Linked DNA regions of Homo sapiens. The protein of the gene in region 1 interacts with the protein of each later gene in a pairwise test. Each region holds a gene or a part of one and is shown on either strand. Other genes may lie near its edges. The genes, in order: NR4A3 and EFEMP1.

Region 1 (11,064 bases):
GCCAAAGTGAATTCAGTCTGAGCCACCAGTAACTTGGGGGTGACTGGAGGGTCAGCATCCAATGCTGGAGGAAAAGAAAAATCTCCTCTATTGGACATAAGATGTAAAGGAACGGAACAAAACGTTTTAGATTTTTTCTCTGCCTGGCCTACCAGTTTAGGAAAACCTCACCCAATGAATACTGGTCCTAGAGTTGGAAGGACTGGACTCCCAGCTCTGTGTCTCTGCTGCCCTACATTGATTGCTCTGTCTCTGGGCTAAGTAGGTTTGGGGTTTGACAAAGAAAATCTAGAAATATTTGCTTACTGATCATGCCAATCGAACATAGGTCAAATGCAAAAAGATTTTTTTAAATGAACTTTTTTCCTGTTTATACTAATTTTTTTCCACCCTATAGGGGTTATTGATCTGTCAGAACTCTGGCTTTCTCACTAGTCAAAGACACAGTATTACATTTACTGACAGCCAATGCCTAAGGAAGGTTTCTCTAAAGCACCTAGAATGGGAATCTAGAGCTGCAAACAACAGCAATGGATATTATGTAAACTAAAATGGGTCTGTGTGTTTCATATGGCAGTAACGCAGCTATACAAGTCAGACTTCAGCAATAGCCCAGGCCCCAAATGAGATATTTGTGTGGAAATTAAGTGAGACCCATGGAAAACACCACCCCTCAAAAATTAGTGATGTGAGGCTTTAATAGCAGAGTGGAATCTAATATTTACTCTATCTCACTTTCAGCCCTGGCTAAATATGTAGACTACGCTAAGGACACGTTTTTCTCCCCTTAAAATGTTACTTTTCTCAACTATAGCTCTAAAAATTTTAGATGTGATCATTGTATAAGTCAAACTATGTATACATATTCTTAGGTTCTTACACTTTAAAAAGTGACATTTTAAAAATTGGCAATGAATATATTTTCCCCCCAATTTTTTCTTTTCTGATCTAACTCTATGCCCCCACTCCAAAAAGCAAAAAGCAAAAAATTCCTCTCCTCCCACCAATGACATCACTGCAATTGTATATTTGTTTACTCTTTTTCTCCTTTACAGGTATGTAAGGTTCATGTGGATAAGGGCTTTGTCTTGTTCAGCAACGTGTCCATTGCCCTGGAACAGTGCCTACTACCTAGCAGCCATTCAGTAAGTATTTGTTAAATGAATTGATTGCTTTCAGGAAAATTTATATCTCTATTGCTCATCCCTTCTCAACCCCAGGAAAAGCTGGAAAATTCAAGGTAAAATTGAGTTGTTATTATAAACTATATCGATGGTTCTCAAACCTTAGTGTGCCAAAGAATCATCCAATGGCACTTTTTAAAGTACAGATTTTTGCCTGCCTCTCCTTCTTCCCAGTTCTGATTCAGTATGTCTGAGTGGGTATGGCCTGGGAATCTGCATTTTAAAGCAAACACCCCACCTCTTTCTCGTAGGAGCAGTCTGGGCACCATGTTTTAGGAAATGCTGACCTGTACTCATAGTGGAACTATAGCAGTTATTAATATTATGGTCAGAATATCAGGGAATGAGAAGCCTGGAGAGATAATGGGAATGAATTTAGCTTAATCTCTTTACCATTTGGATCAGGAAACTGGCCCACAGAGGGGCAGGAACTGGCGTGAAATCATCTGGTGAATTGGTAACAATTTGAGAGGGTCTTCTGAGATGCTTCATGAAACCACTCTTTTTGCAGCTTCATTCTGTTTACCTTGTAGTTCTAACGTGTCTTAAGCCACATTGTTTCATAGGCTATCTTGTGAACACATTTAAATGCCATTTGCTGGTGCCTGGTTTTATCTGAGCAGCACCTCTCGTATTTGCAAGTCTGTTACTCCGTTAAGTGGCACTGATTACCAGAAAACATCCTAGTATGCTGAAAAATACTTGAAATGATCAACTAATGAGGACACTAAGTATGTTTTCTCATTAGTAATTATGCAGGCTCTGAAGCTAATCCCAGTATCTATACATACTTGTATTGCTAAATTAAAAGCAACTGTGGTGCAGAGAACAGAAACATTTTGAGGAGAGACAAATCAAACGTGACATGTTTTGACTGCACTGATGTACAATGATCTGAGCTCACTTTTGAGGGAGAGAAGTTTGGCCCAAAGGAGAACTGAAGGTCCCAGAGCCAGGAATGCTTCACAGAACTCAGGAGCTCTTTCTGGCCTCTAAAACATTCATTTCCTCTGTGACTTGGAACAAAACCCCTCCACCTCCCATTCCCACAAATGGAGAAAACTGCTCACTTACTACCTTAAAGGAACACATGCTAGTACATGAAGATTAAAACATACTGGGCTGGCAACACATTTCCTCCTTTCTCTATTGACCTGACTCACTGGGGGAAGCTAGCATCTTTAATAAATTGTAGGGCTCAAATCAACTCTCAAACTTGACAGGGCAAATTCTTATTTATAATGTAATAGATTATGGATACACACTAAAACACGGCTAAGGAGTGGGATCGGGCAGCTATAAATGAAGTAGAGACTTTCATTTTTCATTTTATCCACTTGTAAATGGTTGCCTTTAAAAAAAAACCCCAATGGATATATATTACTATTATTGTAATTTAAAAATATTTAATAAAGTTTATATGTTCAAAAATATAATAAATTGTCATTAAATAGAAGTGACAGTATGATGAAATAGAAACCTATTGAGTGATGAGATCTGGATTTTGTCCTCTACTCTGTCACCGACATTAGGCAAGCCAGTTAACCCCTTTAAACCTTAATTTACTCTTCTGAAAATATGGGACTTGGATTAGATGATCCCAAGGTCACTCCAGTTTTATGAATTTGTATATGTAAAACTTTAAGAAGGAAGGTATTATGAAAACTGAATTTCAGTGAATGACATTATTAAGGAAATTACTCAAACCATAAATAATACCACACAGAGCTGGAGTCTTAAGTGAAATTATGTAAGAATATATGTGATGGTCAGCAAAGGAAACAATTTAAAAAGTGAAATACTACAGAATGGGAGAAAATTTTGCAAACTATCCATCCGACAAGGGATTAATAACCAGAATATATAAGGAATTCAACTCAATAGCAGAAAAAAAATCTATTTAAAAATAGATAAAAAACCTAAATAGACATTTTTCAAAACAAGACATAGAAATAGCCAACAGGTATGTTTAAAAATGCTCAACATCACAAATCAACAGGAAGATGCAAATCCAAACCACAAGGACATATCATCTCACCCCAGTTAGAATGATTATTATTAAAAAGACAAAAAATAAATGCTGGTGAGAATGTAGAGAAAGGGGAGCACTCATATACTGCTGATGGGAATGTAAATTAGTATAGCCATTATGGAAAACAGTATGGGGGTTCCCCAAAAAGCTAAAACTAAAACTACCTTAATTACTCCCTGTGTTGATGAACTCACACTTCCACAGCAGCTAGTATGGCCAACACTTGTTATCAGACAAGTGAGCGGGAAGAGGCCCCCCTCCTCTCTCTAGATCTGTCTTTGGGAGAATAGTTCTTTTTGCCATAGGGCAAAAGAGTGACCCAATTTCACCAAATCTTTTCCCTTCTTGCCTACATATTTCTGTTTCCCCCAATCATCCATTACAAGTTCCCAGAAACAGTAAATCCCAGCTTAGAACTGGACTCAATTCACGAAGAACAGTCTGACAGGACAGAGTCCATGCAACCATCATCAACTTGGGTCTGCCCATACTCCTACTACTGCAGCTGAAGGTAATGTGGCATCCCTCCCTTCTACCACACACGTTCTTTGTTGGTTCATTTTGAGTGTATATGGAATAAACTCCCCAGATCTTCTTAACATGAACCACTTTGCCAAGGCTCTCCCATTTGTTTAAATTCTAAATGCTGAGCTTCAGATTTATTTTTGTTAACTTTCTTTGTGATGGTTTCAGCCCTTCCTGTTCCAACCTGTCGAGATCACTCTGAATGTTGATACTGACATCCATCATATTAGCGATCCCTCCCAGCTTTCTGTCATTTGCAAATGTGATCAGCATGCTTTTATGCTTTCATCCAAGTTTTTGATGAAAACTCACTGTATTTTTAAAAAGTCTTTTAATTTAGTTGATTTGGGTCCAATTTTTGATAATTGTGTAATGCCATCTAAAAGCAGGGGAATCCAAGTTATGAGGTTCAACCTGATTCCAAAATAATGCAATTAAAATAAATATGCTTTGCAAAATTGAGCCAGGCCCCAAAGGTAGTACCAATGTGACCCAGGCTCTGGCATGGTCAATCTGCTATTTTGGACAAAGCTAACAATTAAATTGGATAAATGTTTGTTGATGAGGATGATGACTCTAGACTAACAGACTGAATGGTGCAGAGGCAAGCAAACACACTAGATTGATTTTTCAGTGTGGGGACAGTTCCCAGCTGGGACAACTCAAAGTGCTGGGAAAGGTTTGCCATTGAATGACTAATTAGGCCATGTAGACTGATAATTGGATAATTTGGGGCCAAAAAATTACTTTTGAGGCCTAAATTATCTGTACTGACCATCTATTGTGCTTTCAAATGCCCTGGAGCAATGTCAGATTGTGTGCTATAGCCTTAGCCTAGGCAGTGCTAAGAAGCTTCACTAATTCAGATGAACTGCCTTTGGAGAGGCCAGGGTGCTTCTGGGAGGAGAACTCTTCATTCCTGAATACTTTTCTAGCACCCACTCTCACTGGAACCAGAGAGGCAGTGAAGCTTGGTATTTAGGAGCCCAGATTTTAGGTTCAATACACTTGGCTCTTAATATACTTGGCTCCTAATTCTGTCTCTGCTGCATATTAGTTCAGTGACCTTGGGCAAGTCAGCCCTTTAGCCTCTCCCAGTTTAAATTTCCTTATCTGTGAAATAGAGATCATAATACTTATCTTTAGAGTGTTCTGCATGATACCTAATGTAGTGTTCATGCTCATTAGGACATTGAACAAATGGCAGAGTAAGAAAGTTTGGCCAAGGAAATAACATACAGGGCACTGTGCTAAAGCTTTGACAAGTATAATTGTTAATTAATCTTCACGAACAACCCCAGGAAGTAGATATTACTATTACCCCACAACACAGAGGAGAAAACTGAGGCATCAAAGGGTGTAATCAGTTGCTCAAGGTCACTTAGCTAGTAAAGGACAGTGTTGGGATTTTCATCTAGGCCCGCATGATTCCAAAGAAGCCTAAACTGTTAACTTAGTCTTATTATTCTGCTTTATTCTCTTACACTATTATTTGAGACTTGATTGTAGTCAAGAGCCACTACTTATAATCAGAATAAGAGTCCTCAACCTTTGATGCTAAGGATCTACCATGCTTCTCATATGACGTTTTGTTATCAGGTGCAGAGAGGAGGCTTCGCAGCCTATAATGAGGGTGGGGAAGAGGGAAAGAGGATCACAGCAGGTACACTAATCATTTCTATCAACACTGCAACCTAAGGAGAAGGGCACATAGCAGGGACACACTCACACTGTTTGCCAGCCATTCAGCCAGAAGCTTGAAACACTGATTAGACCTGGGGAGGGCAGTTTGGTAGTAGCCACCAAGACAGATCAACCGACTGGGGGCCTCTGGACTGGTATTTCTTTATCTGAGTGCAAGCTGTGTTTCTAAGGTTTTTTGTTTTTGTTTTTGTTTTTGTTTTCCTTCAAGTAGGAGGGATAATGATTCCTACAATTCATGGTGGTTTAAAGGATTAAATGAGATAATGTACCACAATGTCTAGCATATAGAAACTGCTCAATAATTGTGATTTTTTTTCCTTCTCTTCCCTCTTCATTGAGACCCTGTTTTGCTAGAAGTTTAGTTTTCTAAGTCCTTTAAAGAAATTGCCTTACAGAGCTGTTTATTCATTTGCTCAGGAAATCCTTTCTCATGGTTCTTCTCTGTGTTATCCAAATTTTGAGGAATTTGCAGGGTTCAGACTGATGGGATTTTACTATATCCCATATGAAATAAAAATGTTGATATGTTTTGGTTGACTTAACTATAACAACACCAATCGTCATTTATGGTCTTAAAAACATTTTCACAACCATCATTCTTGTGTGACTGGTGTTCAGAACACCCCTCTGAGGTTAAATATTGTAGCCATTTCCACTGTAGGCAGGAGAGAGCCAAAAGCAGGAACCAGGTGACACAGGCAGGAAGTAGCAGAGGTGGCGTTCCATCCCAGTTCTCCTGACAACTGATGTCACAGCCAGAGCTCGCTTCTCTCCACCAATGGTCTAATCCCTCTGAATAAGCAGCAGGTCAATCAATGCTGATGCAATTGGATAAACTGCTTAGTAATAACTTGAGGCTCACCCAGATGGTTTGAACACAATATGAAAAAAAACAGTAGTCACTTTGTCTAGATCACGAGATAAATCTACAAATTGTAGTTTGTCTGTGCAGATTTTCATTGGCACAACCACCAGGAATCCTGCAACAATGTGTATGACAGGTGCAGCACTGTCAGGGTCACTTGTTAAGGCATTTAGAGATTCAATAAGGCAAAAATTATTTGCTGCAATGGATGCACTGAATTGCTAAATGAAGCGAGAAATATAGAAAAAGTATGAAAACTGTCTAACATGGTGCCAGACACAAAATCATTCAATCAACTCTTATTACTAGTAGCCATAAATAGAGACCCTGATCATTCATTTGAAAGCAGGAAATCATAAAACTTACTCTGGAATAATCAAGATCTCTGGGTGTTGAGTCTGTTAAAGCTCGGACAAGGGCATTCATCATGCAGATTGGAGGAGAAGGTGGAGAGGGCTGAGAAGGTTCCTGTTGTAATGGGCTCTTTGGTTTGGAAGGCAGACGACCTCTCCTCCCTTTCAGACTATCTGTACGGACAACTGATGCCAAAAGAGACAAAGAAAACAATCTTCAAAGATTATGGAATGAACGACCATAAATCGCAAAAAGGAATAAAAACACATTACAGTTGAGCAATCATTAATGAGACCAACCATTTAAAAGTGGTAATAAGTTTGGAATAATATTCACACAATGATTTCATGAGAGTTGAAACAAGCAGCATAAAAGCCACCGATATTTACATTTGGTAATGAATTAGCCCTAAAAGTCTCCTTCTTAAATAGAACAAAGATGTATGTATACAAGTCCTCTGTTAATTTTGAGAAATTAGAATAAATAGTCCTCAGTTATTTTAAAATGTAGATATATATGATAAAAATAAAATGTTGAAAGGAAAAAGGAACTAGAAAAATTCACCATCCCAATGTAAATATTAGCTTTTTTTCACTGATTTCTGATAATATGTATAAGCAAACTGGGTAAAAAGCATTATATCCATACCTTCTTTTACCATTCCAACACTGAGACACTTCTGAAATCGACAGTACTGACATCGGTTTCGACGTCTCTTGTCTACTGGGCAGTTTTTATTTGCCAGGCAAACATATTTTGCATTTTTCTGCACTGTTCTCTGAGAAAATATAATACAAGATAGTCAACTGATAGTTTCTGGAAAGAGGTAGGACCTGACAAGATGTATTTTAATTACAATGTGAAAAGCGACAGTGCAATTCGTATAATTCGATAAATTTAATTTCCTAAAACGCTAGCCTGCAGGAAAAACAATTTTATTAGTGTTAGCTGCTGACAATGAAAATCATCTCGGATTGTTCTAAAGCAAGTCTCAGGAGACACCCAACTCTGAATGATAAAATCATATCTGAAATTACCAGGTCAACATATCATACCTTGGAGAATTAGATTATCTCCACTTTTAATATCCCTTTGGGAACAATTTTCTACTTGTTCCACTCCCCTGATTATTGCTGACCTTATTAAAATAAAATCAAAATTATCTGGGATGTACTTTGTTTGCTATCACTATTGTAAGTCAAATATCACAGTAACTGGCTTTGTTACCCAACAGAGATGAAATCATAAAAACCAAAATCAGGATTTTTCTAATTAAAACATATAGGAAATAATGTTTTAATGCAAAAAAACTAACTTAATCAGCCTGTATAGCTTATTTTATCTTTAAAGACCATATATGATAAACAGTCCATTCCTGATTTTTCAAAGCAAAATCTTAAAAGTAGTTATTACAAATCATTATTATATCCAAGGAAGAAAACAAAAAACCCCAAGGTACAAACGAAAAATGAGACAAAGAAAGATATATGACAGCCATATATTTTCAGTGAAAATTCCTATTAATAGGTCATTTCATAAATGTCTATTGACATAGACACAGTAACCATATTGTAAAAAAAATCATAAAACTTAAGGTTGGATAGAAAAATGATGTTGTATTTTTCAGAATCCATATAATTTGGAAATGACACATGGAGAAATAAACATATTTCGTCCTCCAAATTTAAACAAATGCTTGCTTTTTAAATTGAAAACATTTGTGCAAATGAACGTATTTTTACCACTTAGGGTGAAACTGTTCAGAAATTACCTGGATCTATACAACTCCAAATAGAGCAGAAAGTTGAAATTTATTTGGGAAGCCTGGGCTGCATTAATAAAAAAAGAAAATAAATCCAGGTAACTTGGGCTTTATGATCTATTTTGTGTTCAAACATCTAGATTTGCTTTTTAACATTTACTTCCAGTCATTCTCAACCCCCATGTTTCAGTTTTACCCTGTTACCTTTTAATTTCATTTTAGGGGATAGTTTCTAGATTGCTTATATAAAACTTAATATAACAAAGCCAACCTATGTCAAGTCTAAGACATGTTTCTCCCACCATAGTAGGTGATTTTAGTTTAAAATGCAAAATTCTGAAACACAGGCATACTTCTGAGGTTCCAGCATTTAAATTCTTAGCAGTCTGTAAGGGTAGGAAACGTGTGTTTCCTGAATAAAGCTTTCATTGAACATGCAGTAATTTCTAACACTCTATTTCTTGCCATCATCCTCAAGGCTTTATGCCAATTTGAGTGCTGATGGCATTTTGCTTCAGGTATACATTTTCCCAATAACCTGAAGCCTTCCCTACATTTGTGTTTAAGGACAGGGAGAGATCATTATGGTTCAATCACCGAATTCCTATCATTAACTGCACTTCATGTCACATTTTTAAAGAACTCAATTTAATGGTAGAAAGCCACTGGGTAAAACCTGCTCCGGTTCCCTTAATTAACAGTTCTGTGGGGTGATTCTCCCCCATCTTGCCCCCACCCTTTCAAGTATAGATTTGTTTTCGAGGGATTGCTGCAGAAAAGAGAAGCTGTTGGGGAACACTTAATTGACATTTCTGGACTCAGAATGTATTACCACTCTGGTATTTTGGTCAACTCTCCATTATTTAGAGATAATTATATTTGTAGATTATTCATAATTCTTGTTTTTTTCTTTCCCCCTTTCTGCTGCCAGTTTCACTGTCCTTCAGCATTTTCCACTGAAATCCTGTAAAAATCAAATCTGCTAAAGGAATGCAGTTACTTGAAAGTAGCTCTGATAAAGCTTGAGTAGTTAAAACAAAAAATGGCCAAACTCAGTGGCTAAAAAATAAAATAAAATGACCAAGATTCTGCATTTAAAACATCATAATCCCAAATATCTGTAGGGCACTTAACGTATTGCAGTCTTTCCCCAAACATTTTCTCATTTCTCTGCAGAATTCAGGTAGTGATATTTACAATCTGAAGATCAAAAATAATTGTTGCTTGTTGCTATGTATATCCCTCCACAAATGTGCATTTTTACAAAACTTTATAGCTTTTGTTTAATAATGAACTATCTGTACAGCTCTTTAAAGATTATAAAGCACTTTCATATATATTTTTATCTCATTGAATACACAGCTCTTCTCTGAGTTTTATTCATTGATAGGGAAACAGGCTTAGAATGAAGTGTCATGCCCAACATGATACAATTGGAAGGTGGAAGATCAAGGTCTTCTATTTGAGTCTTCTCTCACTAATTCTGGTGTACTCCCAGATATATCCTATTGGCCTCCCAAATCCAAGTTACCCAGTCAGCATCCTGCTTTCTCTTTCTTTCTACCCTGTCCAGCACTAGAGGATAAGGAATAATTTGTGTGGGTTTGTAAATGACTGAAATAATGGCCAGTGGGGTGAGGAGTGAGAAGGATGGCACAGAAGTAAGTGTCTGATAAAGTCTGGGAGTCAACAGCAAAAGGTAGCACAGCAAAAGAGCAAGGTCTTTTCCCTAAGTGGCAGAAATAACACTGAACTCAGGAGTCAGGACAAATCAGCTGGAAACATCTCATGGGCAGTTAAATCACTGCTTACAGCCTGCATAAGGCTTCACCGCTCCAGGCCTCAGCTTCCTCGTGGGTAAAATATGGGGGAGGCTGATGGCCCTCCCACTGTAAAATTTCTCCGTTAGGCCTATGAGGGAATGAATTATGTCTACACCTGGCACCGCATGTGATACAGAGGTAGGGAAAGGTTCCTAGAGGACACAAGACCCCAAGTTCTATCTTCTATGGAAAGAGGCAGCTCTTTCCATAGAAGAAGACAGTTGTCCCTGTCTCCTAGAGCTGCAGAGCTGTGAAAAGGGAATGGACTTTGGGGTCACGCAAACGTGGGTTGGCATCCTGCCTCCATCTCCCTTCTCTGAAGGTGTGTCCTGAGGCAGCTGATTAACCTCTTCAAACCTCAACATCCTCATCTACAAAACAAAGAAAATTAAAACACTGTTTTAAAACACTGTTACTAAAAATAGCTAGTGAGTGGCCAGAATTCAATCTTAGATGTGTCTGACTCTAGAGCCCCAGCTCTTACTGTAAGGATTAAATGAGACACAAATGTCCAGGGCTTGGTACGCACACACTATCCCCTCAGACACCCTGGATGGACAGACAAAGCAATGAGGTTTTTGCATTTTCGAAGTCACAGGTCCTTTTAAGACTCTGCTGAAAGCTCTCCAGAAAAATGTTCATAGGGCAGTGTCAGGCCAGGAGGTTCACGGACCCCCGGAGTCCGTCTGGGGTGGCCTGCTGCACATGGACCTCAGTAGAAAGCCCCTGAGAAAATGGATGTGAAGGTGCTAGGAAGGGCTGTAGGAAAGCATGATGTGCCGATTACAGCTCTCAAACCGGGAAGAACAAGGATG
Region 2 (11,690 bases), on another chromosome or scaffold:
GTTTTGAGACTAATCTTCTCCAACTTCTCTGACTGCTCTTTATTAATTTGCCTTTTTTCCCACATTGGAAATGTTAAAAAAAAAAAAGACCAAATTCTCTCTCTTTCCTCGCCCTCTCCCCCGCCCCCACCCCCAACCAGCCCTGGACTCTTCTCTCTCTCTCTAAATCCTCTTACAGCATTCAAGCACCTCCATCTCACACCCTGACCTGCTCCCTAGCTTCAGCTCCTAAGGAACAGAGGTGTTCCTCCTAGCAGTTCCCAGCTTCAATCTCCTCTCTAGTTCACCCACTGAACAAACAGCCTATGGATCACCTTCTGAAACCAGGCAGTTTTAGGGCCTGGGGATGCAAAGATGATGCAGACTTTGTCCCTGTCCTCAAGCAGCTCAAAGACCAGAAGAGGAGACAGATAGGTAGACAAGTTGCAGCAAGATGGCAGGTGCCTTCTACAAGTGTATGCAGGAAGGAGTAATGGACTCTGCCCGGGGGCATGGGTGAGCATGGCAGGGCAGAAGGGAAGACTTGACAGAGGAGGTGACAGTAAATCAGGCTTTACAGGATGAGCAGGATTTTTCCAGGTGAATGTGGGAATTCTAGGAAGAGAGGCTATTGTGACAAAGGCATAAAATTTTTGAAAAGGGAAGGAGCTGCAAGGAGTTCTGGGTAGGTGGAGGATGAGGTTACAGAGGTAGGCAGGGCCAAAACAAGAAAGCCTTTCTTTAGGAATGGAAGCCTGAATTCTACCCTGAAGGTCAGTGAATCTCAAGCTTTATTGTGTCTAAGGATCATTCAGGGTTCTTGTTAAAATGAAGATTCCTGGGCCCACCCAAAGGATTTGATTCTGTAGGTCTGGGTAGGGGGCCTGGAATCTAAATTCTTAGCAAGTATCCCAGGCGATTCCCATACAGGTTGTCTAGGAACTACTTCTTGAGAAATGTTGCTACAGGCGATAAGAGGCCTCTGAAGAATTTTTAAGCTCAGGAAACAATCTGATCAGACGCTCATTTGAGAAAGTCACTGTAAGGAAGAAGCCCAAGGAAGGATTGAGCAAAAGTGGAGTAAACAAACAAATAAACTTAAATTCTTTTAATATAACTGAGAGCTGCTTATGTACACAATGGATGCTTGACAAGGAAATAGCTGAATGGAAGCCCAGAGATCCATTTAGATATTTTACTGATGTCTGAAACTTACTGGAGCGAGAACTAAATTCACTTTGTCTCTCAGACTAATTTTTTTCTTGTTTCCCAAACAGTGTTAAAGGTACCACTACCTTTTTCGAAACCCAGGATTCCAACTTTAACATCAGTGCTGAATGCTCCACTTATTTTCCTTCCATCTCTGCTGACTTTGTGTCCATTTCTACCATGTCTACTAAGAAAGGCTTTTGCTGGCCCATGAGTAGGCAAGGCCCCGCATCTCTACATGCTGCATACAGACCCCATGATCTTTCTTGTGCTCTTGGTTATGTTGCTCCTCTCTCTGAGACCTCACAGTGACCTGCAGATCTCTCATCATCACCATCTCTGGGTTCTTCCCACTACCCAGTTCCAGCTGATCTGACCTTATCACCACCTGGATTGGTCTCAGGTGCTTTCAGCTCTAGCTTTTGATTATGCCACTCTCTGACTCAGGTGCCTCTTCAGCCTTTCTAGATCAATCCAACCAAGGTCATCACTTCCTTCAAGAACCAGCACAGAGTTCTGTCTCCTCTAATATGCTGGCACCAACATTAATCACCTCCTTGCTTTTCTATTTCCTTGGCAATTTGTATAATCTGTATAATAGTATCATTTGTCCTTGCTTAGGAACTTTGTAGTTTTCAACACTGTCTTCCCAGGCTAAATTCTCCAAGAGGAGACTGAATTTTCTTAGTAAACAAACAAATTCTTTTAATAGTGATGAGAATTGCTTATGCAGATAGTTGTTGAGTAAACAGCTGAATGGACACCATCTTTAATATGGAAGAGGACTATGAGGCTATTATGTGGATACGAGCCCATTCTTCTGAAAAGTATCTTTCAAGCCAGGCAAAAATGGCAGTTCACTTGAATAATTTGTATGGTAAATAGAGAAGACTTGCAATTTGTTTTAGGTATTTACTTCTAGACATTTAATGTCAGTGTACTATTAAGTAAGCCTAGACTGAGTTTAGCTTCACCACTTGGCTATGTAGCCCTAAGCAAGTTAGACACTCTCTCTGATCTTCAGTTCTACCATTAGTGGAAGGAAGATGATGCCACTTACCTTACACATTGCCGCAAGGATCAAAGGAGATCGTGTCTCCACAGCGGGATACTCAGAAATAGTTATTATCTTGTCCTTTAACCATGAATTATTAGGCATACAAAATTTAAAGGAGAATAGGCCCAATCTTAGCACAAAAGGGTAACATATCTGGAAAATTTGTTACAATAATAATGAACCCTAGTTAGTGGTCTTAAAACTATCATGTTTAAGCCACAGGGAACCTTCTCTGGTAAAAATGAGGAAGATTTAGGTGATTAGCAAAGGGAAGGGCATAGAAGATAAGCAACTGGAAAAGAAGTAAAATCTTTTATGAGATGATTATAAAAGTGGGTAGTGAATTTAATTTTAGCTCCCTGAGAAGGCAGTAAGTTTAGTCTGAATAACAAAACATTTTCATTTTAAGATAAACAGCACATGCCTTCATTTTTCTTGCTTAATTTATCTTCAGCAGAGGAAGCAACTGCATTTAACATGAAGTTAACAAAATATTTGTATTAAGCTATTTTATTTATAGTGGATCTGAACAACAGAAAGGAACATTTGCCAGATGAATACTAACATTCTAGGGATAATGTGGTACCAAAAAGTGAGATAATGTTTATTATCAGTAATTGACATTAGTTCATTTTTAAGAGTTTTCTTTTCAAAAATTTTTCACATTCTTTCGAGTAGGATTACTTAATTTTAAACTGGGAGCAGTAGAAAAATGTGCTTTTCATATTCCAATCCAGGACAAATGTCATTTGCCTAACACTGATTAAAGACAAGAAAACACAGAACAGAGGTGCAAACAAACTCACCAGAAGTGAAGTCAGTACTGTCCTTCTCTGTTCTCACCACAACTATTTGTAGCAGTGGGAGGGGTCAGGTGATCTTTTTAATATTTTATTAAACATTGGTTACACCTATGCAACTAACTAATCAAATATTACTTGGAAATATCAGAGACGCTAATTAGAAAATGCAAAACGGAGTTGCACACATTACGTTTTAAAACCACTTTAGCCAATATGCATCCTGGTAACACATAAACTGTTGTCTGCCTTTATTTATTAGAATTATCAAGTTATACAAAAAGAATGAATATATAGCCTTTATAAATTCAATAAAGGCCACTTACTTGAGAATGCATGTCATGTACACAAAGAAGGCCATGTGTCTTTATGGTGTTTAACGTTCTTACTTGACTTGAGTCTTATTCTGCACGTATTGGTTTTATCTGCATGTGGTAGGAGTCCAGGTTTTCCAGTTCCTTACACCCATTAATTTGTTGAATGTTTTGGAAACATGTAACTTTCTTTGGTTTTAGTTTTTGAACGGATCCCATTTTTAGCCCTGCACAAATGATTACATGTTGGTTCCTATCTTAGGTGGTGAGCCCAATGAACTTTTGAAAGGATCAAGGGGGCAATTTACAACGAATCTTAGATATGAAGCATGAATGAAGTGTTGTTTAATTTATCACCCTCAGCAGAGTATAGCCCAAATACACTGGCAGGGGTGTGTAAAGTCTTTTTTTGTCACAGAATCCCGCTGAACCGTACTTATTTCAAATTCCATCACCCCTTACCGTGTACGTGATGGTTTCTTCGGTGTCCTGTGACTTGACCAGCGCCAGAGTCAGCATAGTTAGGAAAAGGGCTTTCAACATTGTGAATCTCAAAGAAAATACAGGACAAACTAATGTTTAGTATCTGCTGCGGGGAAAGTAACAAAACTTTAGCAGTGAGCACAAGCGAGGAAAGGAGGGTGGGAGAGGCTGAGGCTCCACCATACTCAACTTCCAATCTGCTTTCTCATCTCCCCTCCCCCTCCTGAACCTTCTCGGTAGCCAACGAACGAGGCAGCAAAGACGTAAAAACTGCTGTAGAATTGCATTTCACGTTACTCCATCCTGCTACGCTGTTTACATACAAAAGACATTCAGCGTGCATTTTATACTGCACCTACAAAGCAGGCTGCAGAAAGAGGGGGTCGAAAGGAAAAAACAGTAATCCATTTCAAAGGGGACGGTGCATTTCCTGCCCCCCAGTCCCACACCCCGGGGGATGGAGGTGGGGCTGCAAAACTCTGTTCTCTAGAACGTTAAGGCTTTCCCAGTATACTCACCTTGAGCTAGCAGAGTTCCTTGCACAGCACAGCAAAAATACCTGTGAGCCAATATGAATTGCCTTGGCCTCAAGCTTTTTATTTTTTAAACAAAATAACAAAACAAAACTCGGAGAGCAATCTTCCAGTTCTAGTAGAATACTAGACCTTCTCACATGTCTCAGAGCTTCTCACATCCCCCAGCACAAACTCTCAAAGTGGCATTTCCACGCCTTTCTCTGCGCACAGCTTTGTTTAAAAGTCCCAGGTTGTGTGGAGGGGCAGCCCAAAGCGACTGATTCTCTTTTGTCTTATCAGTCTGGGTCCCCGACACGCTACCTTCGGTTTCAGGCTGCCTAGGACCGGAACCAGGGATCGCACCGCAGCCCAAGGTACCAGTTTCGGGCGGGCGGCCTGGCCCGGCAGGGAGATGAGGTCCCCTTTCTTAACAGCAAGCTAACGCGGCGGTCCCCTGGAGCTGCTCAGCGTCCCAGCTTCTAACCAGCTCCTATGGAATCCAGGTGCGGCTTAAATCTCGCACACTGGTCCCCTAAACTTTCAAAACCACGTTTATGGGCAAAGCCCTGCCGGCTGGTTGTCGGCGCGCACACACATGCCCATCCCAACAGATGTCACCCGAGTACTCGCACTTGCTGACAGATCGCATTCCGAGGCTGCACACCTCCACCTCCCTCTCTGCCCGAGACACCCTGCACAGTCCAGGGCAGTTCTCGGGTACTCAACACCCCTCAGCTCACCCCACCTCACTCTCCCGCGCGCGGCCCAGTGAGTACTGGGCTCGCTCGGGGCGACCCCCCGTTGGGGGCTCCTACCTGTGCGGCCGCGCTGCGCTCCGGGCCCGGGCAGCGAGGGGAGTGCGCAGGGGAGGGCAGCCCCGTGGGTCTGATCTGGCGAAGTCCGGCAGCGGCCGCGGCGGCAGGAGGAGGAGGAGAAAGGGAGGGAAAGGGGGAGGGCGAAGGGGGGCGGAGGAGAGAGCTGAGGGAGGCGCGAGCGCTGAGCCCAGCGTTGCGAGCCCGGCGGTAGAGCGCGCAGCGCAGCGAGGTCCGCGCCCCCTGCTCCAGGGGCCCTCTTTGCCGCCCCCGCTTGCCCTCCCTTGCCAGCTCCTCGTTTCCCAGACTCGCGGGGACCCCACGCCAGAGAGGACACGTTGACATGTGATGTCCTGGATGCGCTTCAGCCTTGGGGATGCTCCCACTCTCTAGTGCGTTTTCTTCTTCTCTGAGGAGGGGAACACAGCATCTCCCTCAGAGACCAGAGGGTTCTAGAAACTGCTGTTACTTTTTTTCCCAATAAGTGAATGCTAGGAGAGTAAATTAACCCCCATTCATAGAACTGTTTCCTTTACCTTTTCTTTCGGATTTTTTTTTTTTTTTGAGGAGGTGTCTGCTTCCACAAATGGAGAAAAATGAGAATTCATCCATTCAACAAATATTTGCCACCTACTGTGTGCTTAGTGTTGGGAATAGGCCAAATAGAACTTGCACTAACAAAATTGTGAGGTGGGGTTTGTTTTATGGTCTCTCAAACCTCCCTTTATGATAACAAGTGTTGGCAAGAATGGAGAAAAGGGAATGCTTGTATGCTGTTGGTGGAATGTAAATTAGTACAAACATGATGGAAAATTGTATGGAGGTTTCTCAAAAAACTGAAAGTAGAATTATCATATGATCCAGCAATCTCATTTCTGGGTATTTACTGGGAAGATTTGAAATCAGTGTGTTGAAGAGACGTCTGTACTTTCATGTTTATTGCAGCACTATTCACAATTGCCAAGATATGGAATCAACCTAAGTGTCCATCAAGGGATAAATGGATAAAGAAAATGTGGCATATATGTGTGTGTGTATACAAATATAATATATATTATATATATAAACACATATATATATAAAATATGTACACACATATATTTTAGATATATATGCGTTTTTAAGGCTAAATAGTATTCCATTGTGTGTGTGTGTGTGCGCGCGTGCATGTGTATATGAGCCCATTCTTCTGAAAAGTATCTTTCAAGCCAGGCAAAAATGGCAGTTCACTTGAATAATTTGTATGGTAAATAGAGAAGACTTACAGTTTGTTTTAGATATTTACTCCTAGACATTTAATGTTAGTGTACTATCAAGTAAGCCTAGACTGAGTTTAGCTTCACCACTTGGCTATGTAGCCCTAAGCAAGTTAGACACTCTCTTTGATCTTCAGTTCTACCATTAATAGAAGGAAGATGATGCCACTTACCTTACACATTGCTGCAAGGATCAAAGGAGATCGTGTCTCCACAGCGGGATACTCAAAAATAGTTATTATCTTGTCCTTTAACCATGAATTATTAGGCATACAAAATTTAAAAGAGAATAGTATTCCATTTTATGTGTCTGTGTGTATGTGTGGAATACTATTTAGCCTTAAAAAAGAAATTCTGTCATTTGTGACACCATGGATGGAAGTGGAAAACATTATGCACAGTGAAATAAGCCAAATGTAGAAACACAAATACCACATGTTCTCAAGTATCTGAAAGTAACTTAAAACAATTGAACTCATAGAAGCAGAGAGTAGAATGGTGGTTACCAGAGGCTAGGGTTGCAGGGAATGGAGAGATAACAGTCAAAGAGTGTAAGCCTCAATTAGATAGGATGAATAAGGGTTGGGTGCAGTGGCTCATGCCTGTAATCCCAGCACTTTGGGCAGCCAAGGTGGGCAGATCACCTGAGGTCAGGAGTTCAAGACCAGCCTGGCCAACATGGAGAAACCCCATCTCTACTAAAAATACAAAAATTAGACACGTGCCTGTAATCCCAGCTACTCGGGAGGCTGAGGCAGGATGATCGCTTGAACCCCGGAAGGCAGAGGTTGCAGTGAGCTGAGATCATCCCTCTGAGTGACAGAGTGAGACTCCATCTAAAAAAAAAAGAGAGGAAAAGTTTGATTTTTTTAAAGTTCAATTGCACGGTGTCGTGAATAAAGCTGATAATTGAGTACTGTATATTTCATTATCACTAAGAGAGTAAATTTCAAATGTTCTCATCACAAAAAATGTCAAATATTTGAGGTGATGGATATATTAATTAGCTTGGTTTAATTATTACACATTGTATTAAAAAATCATAACACCTTGTACCCTATTAATATATACAACTATAATTTGTCAATATATAATAAAAAGTCTCCCTTTTTATGGGTTTCTTTTTTCATCTATAGCTTCTCTTTTCTTCACTTATTGACTTAGTGAAATCTCCAATACTGCTCATTCAAAGTTGGGCATTTCACTTTCACCTTTCATAGTGGAATTTCAGGAATCTGGAGAGAAAAATCTTTTTTTCTGTTTTTATCAAATCATACCACACAAATTGCAGTTACCTCTGAAGGCTCCAACTCTAAAGTCATACTAATAGCTTGCTTCCAAGGCAGCTGTCTTCTAAGAAGCAAATGGCCAAATACAATTTCATGAATGAGAAAACTTACAAACTGAAGGGGTTAAAACTTTGACTCTGTCCTTGAGCAGGAGGCAGAGCTCAGGAGGAGAGGAAAAGCTCCTTTCCTTTCCTGCTGACTCAAGGTGGGAGGGTGGTAGCGACTGCAGGAGAGGGAGGTTATCAGGTGGAAGCTGCTCTCTTTATCTCTGGGGTATCCAGTGTGGGTTACCTAGACATTGCCAGTTTGGTAGCAAGCCACACAGTATTGGACAAGATCAGAGGGGAGGTGTACAACCCTCCCTAAACCTTACTTGAGTATACAGAGTTTTGGTAATTGTATCAAATATTTTTACTATCAAAATTCTAGTGTTTTCCCCCAAGTCATTAATGACCTCCAGATTTTTTTTAAATGGATCTTTACTTTTTGTACAGTAAGAAGATCTGTGCACATGGTTTTTCCTGTTTCTCTTAAACTCTTTCTACCTGTTCCCAGCCACTTTTCCAGAAAAATGGGGTGAAAACTCTCAAATTTATATCTCCAGCCTGGAACTGTTCCTATATATCCAGCTGCCAACTTGCTATCTTCATTTGGACATCTAATGGATGTTTCAAACTGAACACAACTGCTGTTATCATCCCCCAACCTACTCCACCCACCTTCACCATCTCAGTTAAAGCAGTTTCATCTTTCTATTTGCTCAGATTCAGGACCATGGAGTCATCCTTGATTTCTCTTTTTCTGAGATATCCTGCATTCTATCCTTCAGGAAATTCTGTTGGCTTCACCTTCATGATATATCCAGAATGGAACCACTTCTCATCACCTCTTTTGCAACCACTCTGGTCTAAGCCACCACCATTTTCCAACTGTATTATTGCAACATCCTCCTAATTGGTCTCCTTGTTTACAACCTTGTTCTCCTGCAGCCTTTTTGCAGTGGGAGTTCATATGAATGAAATCATAGAGTAAATACTCTTTCGGGTCTGACTTCCTTCACTCAGCATGTTGCTTGAGATGCATCCTTGTTATTAGGTGTATGAGAAACACATTCCTTTTTATTGCTGAGTAGTATTCCATTGTATGTATATACCCTGATTTGTTTGTTTACATCTTAATAGATACTTGGATTGTTTATGAATAAATCTGTTACGGACATTCACTTCTAAGTCTTTGCTGGGATATGTTTTCTTTTAGATAAACGCTTAGGAGTGAAATTGCTGTCATATGGTAGGGGTATGTTTAACAGTATAAGAAAGTGTCAAACTGTTTTATAAAGTGAGTGTGTTATTTTATGTTCTTACCAGCAATATGTGAGATTCAATTTGCCTGAAATCCTTGCCAACTTCTGGTATTGTCAGTAATTTACAATGTTAGCCATTCTGGTGGGTGTGTAAGTGGTATTTCACTGTGGTTTTATTTTACATTTCTCTGATGTCCAGTGATGTTGAATTTTGCTTTTCGTATGCTTATTGTCCATCAATATATTTTATTTCAAATTTGTGTTCATTTCTTTATTTTTTGGTCTTATTAGTTGTAAGAGTTTTTAAAAATAGTCTTCCTGCAAGTCCTCTTCAGATTTACATTTTTCGAACATTCTTTCTAGTCTTTGTCTTGTCTTTCCAATTTGTTAATGCTGTCTCTTGAGAGCAAACATTTTAAATTTTGATAATTTTTTTTTTTTTTTTTTGAAATGGAGTCTCCCTCTGTCACCCAGGCTGGAGTGCAGTGGCACTATCTTGGCTCAGTGCAACCTCCGCCTCCTGGGCTCAAGCAATTCTTCTGCCTCAGCCTCCTGAGTAGCTGGGAATACAGGCGCACACCACCACACCTGGCTAATTTTTGTATTTTTAGTGGAGACAGGATTTCACCATGTTGGGCAGGATGGTCTCGATCTCCTGACCTTGTGATCCACCTGCCTCGGCATCCCAAAGTGCTGGGATTACAGGCGGGAGCCACTGCACCCTGCTGGATGATTTATTTAATGGAGTCCAACTTTATGGATTCAAACTGGATGCATGGATTTAGCAGAATGCAAGTGGAAATTGCAGTAAATTCACCTTCCTAAAATTGCTCTGAGCTCAGAGGAATCTGAGATTTTAAAGATTTGGGCTGGGCACGGTGGTTCACACTTGTAATCCCAGCATTTTGGGAGGCTGAGGCAGGTGATTCACTTAAGGCCAGGAGTTCAAAACCAGCCTGGTCAACACAGCAAAACCCCTTCTCTACTAAAAATACAAAAATTAGCTGGGCATGGTGGTGCGCGCCTGTAATTCCAGCTACTCAGGAGGTTGCAGTGAGCCAAGATCACGCCACTGCACTCCAGCCTGGGTGACGGAGCAAGACTGTTTCAAAAAAAAAAAAGGAAGATTTGAAGATGTATGTGGTGACAAACTCATAATTTTAGAAGAGATTCACAGATGTTGATGATCACACACTGAGCACTATGATCTATGTCTCTGTATCCTTTGGAATGTGTGTCTTAATCAAACATGTACTATCAGTGTGGCTGAGTCTTAAGAGTGCTTAATCAAAGTGTAGAGTAACTGTGTTCAACGGGGACCCACAGTGGGCATCCCTGGCATGCTAGAGACCAAGATATGAATCACAGAATTAGCCCACAGTTTCTGGCCATGTATCCAAACCAGGCAACATTTGGGTCCACTTGATTTGTGAAAGTATATTCTCCTAGGAAACTGCTGAAGGAGAAGCCAAGGCTGGAACCAGAATTGATGGAAAAAACCCTCTCCTTCTTACAGAAAGAATTCATTTAAAAACACTAGTATTCTTACTGAATTGATAAAAATGGATCATTCACTACTGATAGCCCTATAATGGACTCTTGCAAGAATAATGTTGATTAAATTATTTATTTTCTTGGACTGCTTTCTTATTGATGCATAAAAATTCAGTATTTTTGAATAGCAGAATTTACATTATCCATGAAAATATTCCCATGATGAATACACATTTGGATTTCTGATATGCTTTATATTACTGAAACAAGTCTTTGAAAGAGATGGTTTTTAATTTTTTTTCTAGGGCTAAAATTCTTTGTTTCTATGTTGTCTTTTTGTCAATGATTTGGAGTTTGCATCAGGCCAAGAGAAGACATGAACTTAGGCAAGTCTTCAACAGATGCTAAGTCTTTTCTTTAAAAAATCCACATTACACATAAGCAATTTTAAATTTGTACATAGAAGATAATGTGTAGTTATTAAATTGATTGCTAAAATATGCCCCAAACATTCACTCATGTGACTGGTGGCCTGCGCATTAGAAGAGGACTCATTGAAATATATGGAGGTTGGATTGCAGCTTTGGCCTCAAAGAATATTGGCAAATTTGCATTTACGCAACATTAATTTGCCTCAAGTATGTCACTGGTGAGTTCTTTGTTTTAGTGAGTGCCAGATGTATTCTTCTTCAGAATATACTTGGTGAAACTCTCTTTCTGAATGCCAAACGGACATGAGAAAACTTTCAGTCATCTGGAGCTTGTAAATTGTTCTAAAATTTTTGGAATTTTATTGAAGGCTTGATTTCATCATAAAGCAGAGAATACCTTGGAAGAATAAAAAGCAAATCAATCAGAAATGATTGGAACCAGTAATTAGAATTTCCTTGGAGAGAGAAAAATGTATGATGTAAATCTACTGCCTTGCAAAAAAGATTGCTTTCTAACAAGTTATCAGATCTTACAGAGCAACTTCAGATGCGAACACAGATGTGAAGCTGTTTTTTTTTTAATTGTTGTTTTCAGCTACAAGTTCCCAACTCTCTCCTTTCAAACTTAGATATCCGGAAACTTCATTTGGCTAATCAAGGCTGATGGGGTTTCAGGATGATTGTATTATGGAGCATGAAATTAGAAATAATACCCATGAAAATTAGTAATTTTATTTCAATATGTAAT

What was found.
Region 2: the proteins of NR4A3 (region 1) and EFEMP1 interact in binary tests that used the Homo sapiens proteins (3 or more experiments, as listed by UniProt).

Annotation. Positions count from the first base shown.
Region 1 is NC_000009.12:99,829,067-99,840,130, reverse strand, and holds part of NR4A3 (nuclear receptor subfamily 4 group A member 3), read right to left. Parts: intron 7,443-11,064; coding exon 7,313-7,442; intron 6,850-7,312; coding exon 6,677-6,849; coding exon of another isoform or gene 6,599-6,676; exon of another isoform or gene 5,830-6,598; intron 1-5,829. UniProt on the Homo sapiens protein: Transcriptional activator that binds to regulatory elements in promoter regions in a cell- and response element (target)-specific manner.
Region 2 is NC_000002.12:55,918,539-55,930,228, forward strand, and holds the start of EFEMP1 (EGF-containing fibulin-like extracellular matrix protein 1 precursor), read right to left. Parts: upstream 5,245-11,690; 5' UTR 5,173-5,244; intron 4,402-5,172; 5' UTR 4,361-4,401; intron 3,910-4,360; 5' UTR 3,903-3,909; coding exon 3,822-3,902; intron 1-3,821. UniProt on the Homo sapiens protein: Binds EGFR, the EGF receptor, inducing EGFR autophosphorylation and the activation of downstream signaling pathways. May play a role in cell adhesion and migration. May function as a negative regulator of chondrocyte differentiation.